2 separate regions of the Homo sapiens genome follow, and region 2 is linked to region 1. Evidence: fine-mapped expression QTL. A gene starts in region 1. The other region holds a variant in brackets. All regions are shown on one strand. Distances are from middle to middle.

Region 1 (2,898 bases):
TTCCAGATGACAAGCAGGCTCTCCCACGTCTCCACGAACTGATCAGATACCAGGGCCTCGCTTCTTTGTGAGCCTCAGCTCCCTCCTTTCTGGGGAACCCTACTCGATCCCCAACAGCCGCTGGCCTCCAGCTGCCACAAACGAGATCCAGACTCATTACAGGGAATTCGTATTTCCCCCCCTCAAATAAAACACACACACACACACACACACACAGAGTCTCCGGGGTCCAGCCGGATCACACAGCTAAAGTTTCCGGAACTTGAATCGTAAAACCACAATCAGAAGTTGTTTGGAAATACTCGCCGCAAAGCAATCTGTCCTTTGCTTTAAAAAATAAAAAATAAAAAAAACTTTGCCCTGCATAAAGGCAGACAGTAAAGAGAGACACAAATCTAACTTGGGCAGAGGGTGTGTTCCTCTTTGTCACCCGCCGGGAACCCTCGCGCCGCGCGTGGGCGAGCGGCGGGCACCCGGCGGCATCCGCGCCAGCGGCCACCTCCCCGGCCCGCAACCGGCCTCAGGGGCCGAGATTGCGGCCCGAGGTCCGGAAGCGGCGTCCAGCGCTGTCAGCGGGCGGGTAGGACGGAAGGAAACGGGGGAAGGGCGCCGGGGTCGGGGGAGGCGAGCGGGGACCGGCGCGGAGCCCCGCAGCCCGACGTCGGCGGAGGTGAGGGGAGAGGGGCGCAGGGGGCAGCCCGGAGCCCCGAGGCCCCCGAGCTCCTGCGATGGTGGCCGGGGCTGCCCGGGCCCGACCCGCCGCCCGACTGCGCAGGGCAGGACCTCGGGGACCACGCGCCCACCTTCGCCCGCAGCCGCGGCCGTGCGCTGCGGGAGCCTGGACTCGCACAAGTTGCCGCCCGCGGCCCGGACCCCGCCGGCCCCCGCCCTCCCGCCGCGGTCATTGTTCACCGCGCGCCTCCTACCTCCACAGCGCCGGCGGCTGCGGCGGCTCCCTCTCCCGGCTCGGGCTCCGGGATCGGCGGCTCCCAAGCCCCCGGCGGCCGAGGGCGCGGCGGCGCCGGCTATTAATACCCGCGGGCGGCGGCGGCGCGGGCGCGCGAGCAGGGCTGGCGGTGGCCGGCTGAGGTCCGAGCCATCAAAGGTGGCGCGGGGCGGAGGGGAGGGCGGAGCAGGCGGGGTGGGTGGGGAGCGGGCTCCGGGTCGCCATGGCCGCCTCGACGCCGGGGCCAGCGCTACTCGCGCAGGGAGGAGCGGCGCAAAGCGGGCAGCGGCCGCGTCCCCGCCCCGCGCCCCAGCCGAGCGCCCGCACCGCTGCGCCCGCGCCGGACCCGCCGCCTCTGAGGCCGGCGAGCGGGAAGTGCAGTGGCCACCGCCCCTCCCCGGGTCTGGGCCGGCCCCTCGGCGGGGGGAGGCGGGCGCCGCGCAGCCCGAGCAGCGGGGACGCGGGAGAGCCACAGCCCCCTCCAGCGTCCGGGCCCGCGCCCTGCGCCCGCCCCGCCCCGCTCCGCTCCGCCCGGGCAGGTGCGCCCAGGGGCCTCCCGAGCCCAGCGCGCCGCCGGGGATCTGCGCCTCTCTTGGGCTTCCGGCCAGGGCCGGGCTCCGCGCGGCGCTACCTAATGCAGCGCGGGGAGCGCCACTGGCGAGACGCGAATCCAGCAGCTGTGGCGAAAAACGAACCGGGGAGAGCGGGAGACGTGTGCACGGCGAAGCCGGGAGCGGCAGGCGGGCGGTCAGGGGCTCGGACTCTGCAGGTCGCTTTTTGAGGTCCTGCCTGGGGCTGCTTCGCCTGCGACGTCGCGCGGGGAGGACAGTCTTCAGGGACCCACCGAGCCCTCCCCTCCCCCGGAGCCACAGGCACGGGCTTCCGGCACCACCCCGGGCTGCGCGGGACTTAAGCTTGGGGGAGCGGCGGCCACCCCGCGCCCGCCCACGTCCTGGCCCAGCGCCCTCCGCCCGAGCGAATCCCATGACAGTTCCCGCCCGCCCAGCCTCGGGGGACAGTGCCCTTGGGGAATGGCGTGGGGGAGGTTAGGAGTGGCTTGCGGTGCTTGAGAGCCTTCGGGGTTTCGGGAACTCTACGGAGCGGGGAGCAAGATTCAGGACCCAGGAGGCAGCGATCTAGGGGCACAGTCACCGTCCCCACCCAGCAGCTGCCGCGTTACCTTCTCTTCCCCCTTCTGAGCCTCCAGTCCCTCTCTCTAAGCGTGGCGGGAAGAGGCCTAGGGCGCAGCAAGTGACGTTCTGCCAGACCCGGGGCTAGCGGATTCCGGCCTTCGGAGGCCACTGGCTCAGAACCGTGGGCCTTTTGCGTCTTACAGGAGTTCCCTGACCTCAGACCGAGAGGGCAGATTTCACGGGAGAGGCCTCAAGTGAACTCACAGCTGGACAGGAGCTGGGCAGAAGTGGAGTGTAGGGACCCTGATAGAAGGGCGGGTTGAGACAAGAACAGGGGTCTTGGAAGTAGGGGGTGCTTGTGGGCAGCTCCTGGGGAGGAGCAGAGATGTAATACTTGCAGATTTGGTGGTCTGTGGTTGAAGAGAAGAAATGGTGGGTTTGAGGCTTTGCTCTGTCAGCCCAACCAGCTGTGTGTCACAGATCAGATTTTTTTCTGCTCGTGATTCTCTAAGTGTGGTTCTCAGACCACGACCACCACCAGCAGCCCCTGGAAACGTCAAGAAATGAACATTCTTGGGCCGCATCCCCGACCTACCTAATGAAACCTTAGCAAGCATCTGAATCGCCTGCAGGGATAAAGGACTGTCAGGCTCCATCCCCAGAGCTGCCGATTCAGTAGGTTTGGGGTGGGGCCTGAGAGTTTGCATTTCTAACAAATTCCCAGATAGTGATGTTGCTCTGGTCCTGGGATCACACTTGGAGGATCACAGTGTTAGGACAGTGGGTCTCAAACTCATGGAATCATCTGCGATTAAAAAA
Region 2 (2,898 bases), 66 kb before region 1:
TATTATTATTATTTGCAATGGAATCTCAAACTCTGTTACCTAGGCTGGAGTGCAGTGGCGCAATCTCGGCTCACTGCAACCTCCACCTCCCAGGTTCAAGCAATTCTCCTGCCTCAGCCTCCCGGGTAGCTGGGATTACAGGCGTGCACCACCACCCCCGGCTTTTTCTTTTTTTTTTTTTTTTTTTTTTTTTTTTTTTTTGAGACACAGTTTTACTCTATTGCCCAGGCTGGAGTGCAATAGCAACATCTTGGCTCACTGCAACCTCTGTCTCCCAGGTTCAAGCGATTCTCCTGCCTCAGCATCCCGAGTAGCTGGGATCACAGGCGCACACCACCACACCCAGCTAATTGTTGTATTTTTAGTAGAGACAGGGTTTCACCATGTTGGCTAGGCTGGTCTTGAACTCCTGACCTCAAGTAATCCACCCGCCTCAGCCTCCCAAAGTGCTGGGATTACAGGCGTGACCCACCGTGCCCAGCCAACAAAGTTATTTTCCTTAAAAAAAAAAAAAAAAAAAAAAAATCTTTCCTCCCCAGATAGTCTGTCTCCTGATCCCTCAGCTTCTCCCTCCCCTCCCGCTGCCTCTGTCTGCCTCCAGGTCTCCACACGTGGCTCACTGTGGCTCAGCACTTTGCCCTCTTTCTTCACCTGGAAACTTCTACCACTGCTTTAAAACTCAGGAAAGTTGGCTGGGCGCGGTGGCTCACGCCTGTAATCCCAGCACTTTGGGAGGCCAAGGCGGGTGGATCACGAGGTCAGGAGATCGAGACCATCCTGGACAACACGGCGAAACCCTGTCTCTACTAAAAATACAAAAAATTAGCCGGGCATGGTGGTGGGCGCCTATAGTCCCAGCTACTCGGGAGGCTGAGGCAGGAGAATGGCGTGAACCCGGGAGGCGGAGCTTACAGTGAGCCGAGATCGTGCCACTGCACTCCAGCCTGGGTGACAGAGCAAGACTCTGTCTCAAATACAAAAACAAACAAACAAAACTCAGGAAAGTGTTAAAGCCTTCTCTTCAGGAAAACCATCCGGTTTCCAAATCTCATTTTGTAGAGTTTTCTTCCCTAACTCATTCTCAGCCTTTTCCTTAAGAGTAGGTCCCCAGAAGTTTCCTAATGAATTCCTTACTTCCTCTGCAATGAAACCTCTAATGCTGTCACCATAGACACAAGGGCTGGCCCTGAGGTCAGCAAATCAGAAACTATGGGATCACATCCACAGCGACTCAAATCACCAGGGCCTAAAAGGGCGTGTCCTTCCATCGAACATGTCTAGGAAACACCTGATCACTGTCTAGGAAACACCATTTACTCCTGACTTCTCCCACACTCACCTTCCTCACCTACGGTCCATCAAAGCCTTTTGAAGATTTTATTCACTCCTTATGTCGTCTGGTAACATAGGGGTTCTAAGACAGGCAATGCTTCTGGAGCTAACACTGTCTGTCTCAGAACCCCAGTGTTACCAGATGACATATGGAGTGAAGATCTGAGAACTGCTTTTTTTTTTTTTTTGAGATGGAGTCTTGTTCTGTCACCCAGGCTGGAGTGCAATGGCGCAATCTCGGCTCACTGCAACCTCTGCCTTCCAGGTTCAAGCGATTCTCCTGCCTCAACCTCCCCAGTAGCTGGGATTACAGATGCCCACCACCATGCCCGGCTTTTTTTTTTTTTTTTCTCCCCAG[T/G]AGAGATGGGGTTTCACCATGTTGGCTAGGCTGGTCTTGAACTCCTGACTTCAAATGATCCAAGTGCTGGGATTACAGGAGTTAGCCACCACGCTGGCCCCTTCTTTTTTGAATGCCTGATTCCACAGGTCTGTTATATAAGTGCCTTTCTCACTTCTGCCTCAAATAAGCTTTTTCTAAGCATCTGTTTCTAATCTGTTTGGTTGTGTGATCTCTGCTTTGGTTCATTCACTCATTAGCCTTGAGAGATGAGACCAGCCTGGTTAATCTAGAATCCCAGCCTAGTGCCCTTCACCGAAGTGGAAGAGAGATCCTCAATACTGGGCCAATGAATCAAAGTGTGTGTGTGTGTGTGTGTGTGTGTGTGTGTGTGTGTGTGTGTGTGTGTGTGTGTGTGTGGAGGTGGTGGTCGGGGAGCAGTATATTCATTATGAAGTCAGTTGTGTCCAAAATAATCTTCACAAGCCAGGCAAAATTACTTCTATTCCATATATGTTTTCTGTTCACTGTCTCATGGTTAAAAATAAATGCAATCTCCAGAGAAAACTATGCCATCAGTCAAGTTGGCCTTCCCCATTCCCAGCCCCTCCATGCACTTTTCGTACTTTGGTGTGGCCCCTCCCCCACCCCACCCCTTCTGCCCTGCACTTGCTCAGCAGGGACAGGCCCTGTGCACGGTAATTCACACTGGGCTATAGCTGGGCTTGTCACTCTGAGTCAAGCAGGCATGGACCTGGCTATGGTGTTGATGCCCATCCAGGGAGCCGATGACGGCAGGAAGGAAGGGCTCTACTCTCCCACCTCACCCCAGCCTAAAGGTGCTCAGACCCTCCCTGCAGATATCTTCTCCTTGTCCTACCTAAGCAAAAAGCAAGACTCCTCATCCTCTGAACTGAATCCTTTCTCTCCCTCTTGCCCAAAATCCCCAGATAAATATATATTCTAATTTTTAGCACCTTGGCATTTAAAAATTTAATTGAGTTAGTCATTAACAGATACTTGGTAGCTTAACTTCCTTTCTCTTTAGTTCTCAAATGATCTCATGTCTAGGTTATTTCTACTTCTGGATACTGATGCTTGAACAAAGTATGTCATACTTTCTCTCTGTTATCATACTTGCATGCAGACTGTTGCTGTACATGGAAAAGTCTGTTTAATTCAATCATAAATCCAGCCAAGAGTTTTGAGTTGAGCATCCTAAGAACGCT

The links. PIP is the estimated chance that this variant, and not a neighbour inherited with it, causes the effect. A credible set is the group of variants that fine-mapping cannot tell apart.
Region 2: its variant is the best candidate, but not a certain one, in a credible set for the expression of FARP1 in fibroblasts (GTEx, PIP 0.56).

The regions. Positions count from the first base shown.
Region 1 is chr13:98,141,521-98,144,418 of GRCh38, reverse strand. FARP1 (FERM, ARH/RhoGEF and pleckstrin domain protein 1) reads right to left here and starts at 1,325. Exons shown (of 27, transcript NM_005766.4): 1 at 927-1,325. LOC105370328 (a long non-coding RNA gene) reads left to right here and starts at 509. Exons shown (of 3, transcript XR_931670.4): 1 at 509-580. RefSeq lists silencers at 1,275-1,584, 1,825-1,874.
Region 2 is chr13:98,207,100-98,209,997 of GRCh38, reverse strand. The region is part of intron 1 of FARP1 (FERM, ARH/RhoGEF and pleckstrin domain protein 1); the gene reads right to left. It overlaps MIR3170 (microRNA 3170), which reads right to left and starts at 1,474; the gene lies at 1,398-1,474. The variant T/G (reference allele first, on the strand shown) is at 1,691.